3 linked regions of the Homo sapiens genome follow. The protein of the gene in region 1 interacts with the protein of each later gene in a pairwise test. Each region holds a gene or a part of one and is shown on either strand. Other genes may lie near its edges.

What was found.
Region 2: the proteins of FAR1 (region 1) and PEX14 come close enough for resonance energy transfer, tested with the Homo sapiens proteins (one large-scale study listed by BioGRID).
Region 3: the proteins of FAR1 (region 1) and PEX26 come close enough for resonance energy transfer, tested with the Homo sapiens proteins (one large-scale study listed by BioGRID).

The regions. Positions count from the first base shown.
Region 1 is NC_000011.10:13,727,668-13,730,413, reverse strand, and holds part of FAR1 (fatty acyl-CoA reductase 1), read right to left. Parts: coding exon 2,731-2,746; intron 1,803-2,730; coding exon 1,640-1,802; 3' UTR 1-1,639. UniProt on the Homo sapiens protein: Catalyzes the reduction of saturated and unsaturated C16 or C18 fatty acyl-CoA to fatty alcohols. It plays an essential role in the production of ether lipids/plasmalogens which synthesis requires fatty alcohols.
Region 2 is NC_000001.11:10,481,317-10,484,973, forward strand, and holds part of PEX14 (peroxisomal membrane protein PEX14), read left to right. Parts: intron 1-3,176; exon of another isoform or gene 3,177-3,657. UniProt on the Homo sapiens protein: Component of the PEX13-PEX14 docking complex, a translocon channel that specifically mediates the import of peroxisomal cargo proteins bound to PEX5 receptor.
Region 3 is NC_000022.11:18,084,429-18,088,085, forward strand, and holds part of PEX26 (peroxisome assembly protein 26), read left to right. Parts: intron 1-683; coding exon 684-830; intron 831-3,543; coding exon 3,544-3,647; 3' UTR 3,648-3,657. UniProt on the Homo sapiens protein: Peroxisomal docking factor that anchors PEX1 and PEX6 to peroxisome membranes. PEX26 is therefore required for the formation of the PEX1-PEX6 AAA ATPase complex, a complex that mediates the extraction of the PEX5 receptor from peroxisomal membrane.

The sequences.
Region 1 (2,746 bases):
ATATACATATTTCTTTTAAAATAATATTTAAAAGTTTTACTACAGAAAATCTGGCTTCAACATGGAAGCATTTTTCCTTTTCAAGATTATACACCTGCATGAAAGTAGGTGATTTCCTTTACATTTAGTTTTTCACAATAGCAAAATAAACTTTTTATACATTGCATTTAAATTGACAAAGAAAGTTAAGATGTAAAGCTCCATGTAACTTTTTGTATTGCGAACTGTTCTCTTTAAACATACTCCAGATACACTGCTGATTATCTAATACAGTACAACTTGATAAACTTAATTAGAAGTGTTATGCTGAACAATTTGTTAAATCAAATGTATGTTAAAACAGTAAGTAGAGTTAACTATTATGATTAAAAGGGAATTTTAATGTATCATTAAAATATACATCAATTTTCTTGCTATTACTTGTTTCTATAACGCATTTCTTTCTAAAGCTAAAATCACATGCATAAAAAATAAGTGATACCTTCAAACTCATTCAACAGTTTGCTACCTTATGTAGTATGTAAATAAAGTCCTTTATTTAATTTCGTACACATTATCTTAAGCATTATTTTATTTTTCTTGAAGGAATTCATCTTTCAAGGTCAAAATTAGTATGTGTTTACACACGAGTATATTTTTTAATGCTATTACTACCTGCAAATACATTCTTCCATAATAATGCACTTTCAGTTTTCACTGGAAAGATAGCACAAGCCTTTTAAAAGTCCTATGAATAAAATTTATAAAGGGAGGAGAACACAAGTATGGTGAATCCTTCCCAACTCCCACTTCCATCAAATCTCAAGAAATCCTCCTGCTTCAAAACATAAACAATCTCACAAGATTTTTATTTGATCATAATGTGGAAAAGAAAACTGTATTCCTATTCTTTTTGATACTAACAGTTTTACGGAATTTGTTTTCACTTTCTGTCAAAAAACACGTATGTTGCTGATATGGATTCTCAAACCCATTTAGATCGAATAGGGTCATTAGAATAATATAGCCTTCTGATTTTAAAAGCAACTGATTACTTATAGAAAAATGATATGCATCAGACGTTTAATCAGAAAAAGAAAAATGAGAACATCTCTTTCATGTTTGATATCATTTAACTTACAGAATGATGTGAAAATACGCTGGTTATAATTTTAAACAAAACTAAAACCCACTTCAACTAATGAAAAAAACAAAAAATGAAGAATCAAATATCTACCAACTTTGCTAGTATTACTGTCCAAATAAATGTCTTCCATTGCACTGAACATTAGAATTAGAAATTCACTATATGTTAAGGCATATTATTTTAATTAATATGTTCCAGAATTGCACAGTTATACTGGTCAGTGTTCCTATTTCCCCACTCTTGTCCTCAGCACACCCCTTTCTTCTAGGGCTCAAAATATTAAGTCATGGTTTTGGTGGCTACTGTAGATTTGAGCTGGCATAACACAGTGTGTTCACTAAGTTTTATGAGCATAAACATTAAAATGTTACATAAAATATACCATAATTTACTTCACACTCCGATCTAAGATGGTTTAATGTCTTGACAAAAAGTGAGATGACTTATACATTTTACATTTTGTACATTTAGATCACCATATGTATAGATGTTCTAATGCTGAATCCTTGGTCTTCAGTATCTCATAGTGCTGGATGCTCGGAAGTATGACAAAAACTTGTAACACAGACTAACCACAAAGTACCAGATATTTCTTGCCATTTGTGATCTTGCAATAAAAATGCGCCAGATGAGGATCACAAGGATAGTATTAAAACCATAACGTATATTCCGCAACCTGGAAAGCAAATCAAGAGATATGTTAGACAGTATTTTCTAGAAAAAAATATTGTTAGATGGCAGCTAATTAATACTGAGTTTTTAATCAAAGCTCAAATCCATATTAATTTGAAACTTATGATAGGCATTAAGTATACTGTAGGTAAAACAGATATGTACCTTGAATTTCTAGAGCTTCCCATCTAATCTAAAAAGGTTCATTCATTACATACATCACAGTACAGACAAAATAGAGCAAACTTTTTTTTTGACATCTTTAGTTGCTTACAAGTTGTCAGACAAGTAACTTACTCTTTCAGTTACAGGTGACAGTCACAAGATCAAAGGCCAAGTGGATAAGCCCTTATCCAAGCATAAAACATGGCATTAACTTGATAAAGGAGGATCCTCCCTTTTCTCAAAGAGTAACAATATGTTACTCTCATGTTTCAGCTCATGTTTCAAAAAATTTTGATGTTTCTGATGGTGTTTGAAAGAAATACAAACCTTTAGAGATGTAATAATGTTACATAAATTATACTGACCTCAGCAGGCAGTGCAAGATAGGACGGCAATGTAAGAAAAATGATGTAGAGAAAAGAGGTTCGAATATGGAGTCAAAGATCAATATTCTAGTTTGCTTTGCCACTCAATACAATATGGCTTAGGCAAATATAACTTTCCTAAGCCTCAATTTCCTCATCTATAGAACTGGCTGCCCTGCAAAGTCGCACAGAGTTATGAGGCATGAGAGGGATAATAATGTGAAAGTCTTAAAAAGTGTCATAAAAATCACATTAAAAAGCACTACAAATATAAGAGATTACCATTAAAAATTATCTGCATCTTTGAATGACAGATATAGCAAATATACCAGTTTACCAAAAAAATTGTGGAATATTTCATAAGGAAGACAAGAAGCAATCAAATCCATGCATCAAACTCACTTGTTCAGATGTTTTC
Region 2 (3,657 bases), on another chromosome or scaffold:
TTTAATAGAGACAGGGTTTTGCCATGTTGGCCGGGATGGTCTCGAACCCCTGACCTCAAGTGATCCACCCACCTCGGCCTCCCACAGTGCTGGGAGCCACCGCGTCCAGCCTTAAACTTTGTTTGTTTGTTTGTTTGTTTTTTGAGACAGGGTCTTACTCTGTCACCCAGTCTGGAGTGGAGAGGTGTTATCACAGCTCACTGTAGCCTTGACCTCCTGGGTTCAAGTGATCCTCCAGCCTCAGCCTCCCGAGTAGCTGGGACTATAGTCATGCACTATGATGCCCAGCTAATTATTTTTTGTAGAGGTCGGGTCTCGCTGTGTCGCCCAGGCTGGTCTTGAACTCCTGACCTCAAGTGAGCCTCCCACCTCAGTCTCCCAGGCTTCTTTTACTTAACACATATTTTTGAGATTCATTCATGATGAGAACAGTGACAGTTTATTATCACTGCTTTATACAGTTATTGTATGAATGTGTTTGGCCATTTATTATTAACCATTCTACTCTTTTTTTTTTTTTTTTTTGAGACAATGCCTGGCTCTGTTGCCCAGGCTGGAGTGCAGTGGTACGATTTCGGCTCACTGCAAACTGCTTCCCAGGCTCAAGCCATCCTCCTACCTCAGCTCCCCTGGTAGCTGGGACCACAGGCGCATGCCACCACACCTGGCTAATTATTTTTGTATTTTTTGTAGAGACGGGGTTTTGCCATGTTGCCCAGGCTGGTCTTGAACTCCTGAGCTCAACCAGTCTGCCCGTCTGGGCCTCCCAAAGTGCTGAGATTACCAGTGTGAGTGACCACATCTGGCCACCATTCTACTTTTTGTTTTTTGAGACTGAGTCTTGCTCTATCACCCAGGCTGGAGTGCAGTGGCATGATCTTGGCTCACTGCAACCTCTGCCTCCCAGGTTCAAGTGATTCTTCTGCCTCAGCCTCCTGAGTAACTGGGATTATAGGCACTGGCCACCATGCCTGGCTAATTTTTGTGTTTTTAGTAGAGACGGGGGATTCACCATGTTGGCCGGGCTGGTCTCGAACTCCTGACCTCAAGTGATCCACCTACCTTGGCCTCCCAAAGTGGTGGGATTATAGGCGTGAGCCCCTGCGGGTGGCCCATCTTACTTTTTTTTTTTTTTTTGAAATGGAGTCTCGCTCTGTCACCGGCTGGAGTGCAGTGGCGCAATCTCAGCTCACTGCAACCTCCGTCTCCCGGGTTCAGGTGATTCTTCTGCCTCAGCCTCCCAAGTAGCTGGGACTACAGGCATGTGCCACCATGCCCGGCTAATTTTTGTATTTTTAGTAGAGATGGGGTTTCTTCATGTTGGCCAGGATGGTCTCGATGTCTTGACCTCATGATCCACCTGCCTTGGCCTCCCAAAGTGCTGGGATTACAAGCATGAGCCACCGTGCCTGGCCTGAGCCATTCTACTTTTAATGGACATTAGATTGTTTCACCTTTAGGGTCATTACAAATAGTACTGCTGTGAAAATACCTGTACGTGTCTTTTTGTGAACATAATATGTGCATTTCTGGTGAGTTCATCTACGTTTTTTATTTTTTATGGTATTGACATGTTTGGAGAGTCTGGACTACTTGTTTTGTGAAATGTTCCACCATCTGGATTTGTCTGATTTGTTCCCTTACATTTAGATCCGGGTTAAACATTCTTTTGTGAGAATATTATGTAAGTGACGTTGTGTCTATCTGTGTATCATATCTGGAGGAACGAGTCCCATTGTCGAAGATGAAGTTTGATTGTTTGGTTAAGGTGGTGTCTATCACATTTCTCCATCATAAAGTTAACTTGCTAAATTAGTTGCTTTCTTTGCAACTTTGCTAGTATTGTTTTAAATTTTTGAGACAGGGTCTCACTCTGTCACCCTGGCTGGAGTGCAGTGGCACAGTCATGGCTCGCTGCAGTCGTGACCTCCTGGGCTCAAGTGATCCTCCTGCCTTGGCCTCCCAAAGTGCTAGGATTACAGGTGTGAACATGGCCAAGTTTTTCTTTTTTTCTTTCTTGAGATGGAGTCTTGCTCTGTCTCCAGGGTGGAGTGCAGTGGTATGATCTCGGCTTACTGCAATCTCCACTTCCCAGGTTCAAGCGATTCTCCCCCCTCAGCCTCCGGAGTAGCTGGGACTGCAGGTGTGCACCACCATGCCTGGCTAACTTTTTATATTTCAGTAGAGACGGGGTTTCACTATGTTGGCCAGGATGGTCTCAATCTCCTGACCTCATGATCCACCCGCCTCGGCCCCCCAAAGTGCTGGGATTATAGGCGTGAGCCACTGCGCCTGGCCTGGCCAAGTTTTTTTTTAGTATTTTAGTTTAATATTGTATTGACTGACAAAGTCTTATGGCCTAAACTTTACTGTGGAATTCTAATAGGTGTGTTGTGATCAGTTTGAGTTTTGACAAATTGTATATACGTGTGTAACCACTACCACCCTAAACCTGTGTAACCACCACTGCCACAAGCAAGATCAACAGTTTCAGTATCCCTAAACGTTCCCTTACGCCCCTTCCCATTGAATCCTTGCCTGTGGTCCTAGGAAATCTGAACTGTTTTCTATTACTATAGAGTATATTTGTCCCTCCTAGAATTTCATATGAATGAATTATGTATTCTTTTATGTCTTTTTTGGCTCAGAATAATGTTTGTGAAATTTATTTGTGTTATGGTATGTATCAGTAATTATCAGTAATGAATTACCTTTTTTTTTTTTTTTTTGAGATGGTATTTCGCTCTTGTTGCCCAGGTTGAAGTGAAGTGGCTCAGTCTTGGCTCACTGCAACCCCTGCCTCCTGGGTTCAAGAGATTCCCCTGCCCCAGCCTTCCAGTAGCTGGGATTACAGGCGCCCACCACCATGGCCGGCTAATTGGCTAATTTTTTTGAATTTTTAGTAGAGACAAGGTTTCACCATGTTGGCCAGAGTGGTCTTGAACCCCTGACCTCAAATGATTTGCCCACCTCGGCCTCCCAAAGTGCTGGGATTACATGTGTGAGTCACTGCGTCCAGCCAATTTTTTTTTGTTTAGTAGAGATGGGGTTTCACTGTGTTGGTCAGGCTGGTCTCCAACTCCTGACCTCATGTGATCCAACTGCCTTGGCCTCCCAATGTGTTGGGATTACAGGCGTGAGCCACTGCGCCTGACCATGAATTACTTTTTACCGCTGAGTAGTATTCCATCGTATGGATGGCTATATCTCAATTTGTTGATCTGTTCACCAGTTGATGGACATTTGTAGTAGTTTTTGATTCCTGCGTAACAGTATTACCACAAATTTAGCCGCTTGGCACAGCACACATTGATTATCTCATGGTTTCTGTGGGTCAGGAGTCAGGAAACCACTGGGCTGAGTCTCACCAGGCTACTATTGAGAAATCTGTCAGGACTGTGGTCGCTGACTAGGGAGGGGTCTGCTTCCTAGCTTGTGTGGTTGTTGGTGGCATTCAGTTCCTTATGGACCATGAGACTGGAGACTTTAGTGTGTTACTGTCAGCCAGCGGCCGCCCTCAGTTTCTTGCCAAATGAGTCTTCCCACTTGCCTCCTCAAAGCCAGCAGAAGAGAGAGTCTCTTAGTAAAGTGGACATTACCACGACGTATCTCACCCACATTAATGCAGTCACGTACATGCTGTCACCTTTGCCATAT
Region 3 (3,657 bases), on another chromosome or scaffold:
GAGACGGGGTTTCACCGTGTTAGCCAGGATGGTCTCAATCTCCTGACCTCGTGATCTGGCTGCCTTGGCCTCCCAAAGTGCTGGGATTACTGGCATGAGCCACTGCGCCTGGCCTGAAAGGTTCTGAAAGGTTTTAAAAAACTTTTACAAAGATGCATTCAATATAGTAAATAATATATAGTCAAAATAAGTAATAAACACGAGGAAAACAATTTATATTCATGAGATTTGCAAGAGTATGTGCAGTTAAGGAATGAAGGCTTTAGCCAATACCTAATACCCTTTTACTAAACTCTTTTTTTTTTTTTTTTGAGACGGAGTTTTGCTCTTGTTGCCCAAGCTGGAGTGCAATGGCACGATCTTGGCTCACTGCAGCCTCCACCTCCCAGATTCAAGTGATTCTCGTGCCTCAGGCTCCCAAGTAGCTGGGACTACAGGCGCACACCACCACGCCTGGCTAATTTTTGTATTTTTAGTAGAGACGGGGTTTCACCATGTTAGCCAGGATGGTCTCGATCTCCTGACCTTGTGATCCACCTGCCTCAGCCTCCCAAAGTGCTGGGATTACAGGCATGAGCCACTGCGCCTGGCCTGCTCAGGTCTTAGAAGCAAGCACAGAGGTCGGGGTCAGGGAAGCTGATTCCCATGACATCCCTGAAGCTGTGCTCTGTCTCCCTGGCCAGGCTCTGTCTCCCACAAGTTCCTGTCACTACCGATGTTGGTTCGCCAGCTTTGGGACTCTGCGGTGAGCCACTTCTTTTCTCTGCCCTTCAAAAAGAGTCTCCTGGCTGCCTTGATCCTCTGTCTCCTGGTGGTGAGATTTGATCCAGGTAAGAGGTGGAGACTCTCCCCTGTCCTTCCTGGGAAGGGGTTGTTGCCAGGGCTGGGCCTGTGGGAGTGGGTGTTTGTCAGAGTCCTACTGGGGAGGGGAGTCTCTCCTATGACATTTCCCCTGAGTCTGTTCCACAAGGAGGAATTGCTAGACTGGGCATGAGCCAGCCCCACCCATAAGGAGAGGCCAGTCCTGGAGTCTATGAGAGCAGCCAGGAGAAAGTCCACTTGGCCCTGCTGACTCCTGAACATGGACTGAGTCATAGTCCTCCACTTTTTCTAGGGCTGAACTCTGACTAGAACCTCAGAATTTAAAAAAACTTCCTCTTGGCCAGGCACGGTGGCTCACGCCTGTAATCCCAGCACTTTGGGAGGCCAAGGCAGGCAGATCACAAGGTCAGGAAATCGAGACCAGCCTGGCCAACATGGTAAAGCCCCATCTCTACTAAAGATACAAAAAAAATTAGCCAGGTGTAGTGGCACATGCCTGTAGTCCCAGCTACTTGGGAGGTTGAGGCAGGAGAATAGCTTGAACCCGGGAGGCGGAGGTTGCAGTGAGCCAAGATCGCACTGCTGCACTCCAGCCTGGGCAATAGAGCGAGACTCTGTCTCAAAACAAAAAACAAAAAACAAAAAAACTTCCGCTCATCAGAATATCTACAAAAGTGTTAATTCAAGTATTAATGTCTCATGAAGTGTTAATTCAAAGCAAGTTGTAAATGAAAAACTCATACATTTTAGAAAATGTGGAAAATAGGCCGGACATGGTGGCTCACACCTGTAATCCCAGCACTATGGGAGGCCAAGGAGGGTGGATCACCTGAGGTCAGGAGTTCGAGAACAGCCTGGCCAATATGGTGAAACCCCGTCTCTACTAAAAATACAAAAATTAGCCAGGTGTGGTGGTGCGTGCCTGTAATCCCAGCAACTGGGGAGGGTGAGGCAGGGAGCATTGCTTGAACCCAGGAGGCGGAGGTTGCAGTGAGCCAAGATTGCACTGTTGCCCTCTGGCCTGGGCTACAAGAGCGAAACTCTGTCTCAAAAAAGAAAAAAAAATGTGGAAAATAGAGAAAAGTATAAAGAAGGGCATAGAAATCTGCTACTCTGCTGTGCTTTCAGTCTTTTTCTATGGATATAGAGATTGTAGGCAGTTACATGTCACACATATGCTTTCAAGCATGGCCTTAAATCGCTAACTATTCCAGTTCACAGGAATGCCCCTAAGTAATTTAACAACCCCTATTATTGAACATTTGGGTGATTATTCTGTTTTCTGCCTCGCTGTGAAGAAGGAATGAGCTCCCTAAGTGATATTTGGGAACAACCCCAGTTATTTCCTGAGGATTGACCCCTCAGGTGCATGAAGCCAAACTTGGCACTCGCTCTTTTAGATTTTTTTGTGTTACTCAGTGTGAGTTATGTTCTAATCTCTACTCTTCTCATGAATTTAGACTTAGAATATGATTAAATAAGTTTCAAAATTTAAGAGGAAATCAGAAACCCTTATACTGGTCCCTTCAAATGGTTTGTCTATTTTGAGAAGTGCCATTTGTTAACTTAGTCTTTAGATTCTCCCTGTTTCCCCATTTCTCTTTCTCTTATTCAGTGAGCTTTTTTAAAATATTTATTTATTTATTTTTATTTTTATTTTATTTTATTTATTTAGTTTTTGATACTGGGTCTTTCTCTGTTGCCCAGGCTGGAGTGCACCGGCGTGATCTTGGCTCACTGCAACCTCTGCCTCCTAGGCTCAAGCGATCTTCTCTCCTCAGCCTCCCAAGTAACTGGGACTACAGGCATGTGCCTCCATGCCCGGCTAATTTTTTATTTTTATTTTTGAGACAGAGTCTTGCTCTGTTGCCCAGGTTGCAGTGGCGTGATCTCGGCTTACTGCAACCTCCGCCTCCTGGGTTCAAGCGATTCTCCTGCCTCAGTATCCCAAGTAGCTGGGATTACAGGCACACACCACCATGCCAGGCTACATTTTGTATTTTTAGTAGAGACGGGGTTTCGCCATGTTTGCCAGGCTGGTCTCCAACTTCTGGCCTTAAGTGATCCTCTCACCTCAGCCTCCCACAGTGCTGGGATTATAGGCACAAGCCATCATGCCTGGCCAGCGAGGTTTCCGTCACATAGCTCAGAGTTGTCCTTCTAACCCGTCTGCTGAATGCTGAGCAGGGATCCCCTGTGGACGACTCTGTTTGCTTTACAAAGAAGTCACGAGTTAGCGCTCGGAATGCTCAGTATCATCAGCGTTCATCCCTGGCCACCTCCTGACTGATACAGATTTAGAAACTCTTTATGATTCTTTATGGTTCCCGTAAGCCCTTTAGTCTCGTAAACCCTGGTCTCCTAGTGGGGATGGCATGAGGACATTTGAGCCTGCTCTTTCCAAGGCTGCTTCAGAAGGGCCTGGCCCAGTGGCCCTGACCCTCAGCAGCAGGCCCGACTCATTGGAGTGATGATGGTGGGGGAGGAGAACCTGCACCTGCAGGCTGAGGATCGCATGAGCCCCAGAGATTGAGGCTGCAGTGAGCTGAACACAGACTGCACTGTACTCTAGCCTAGGTGACAGAGCGAGACCCTGTCTCTAAAAAAAACAAAACAAAACCAACTATGTGTAATTGGTAGTGGAGTCTCCCAGGGTGGGAGATGGCAGAGTGACAGGTGAGAGGGGTGGGACGTTCACTGTAGTCTCCCTCTGCCCTGCAGCTTCCCCTTCCTCCCTGCACTTCCTCTACAAGCTGGCCCAGCTCTTCCGCTGGATCCGGAAGGCTGCATTTTCTCGCCTCTACCAGCTCCGCATCCGTGACTGAGGGTCCCTGC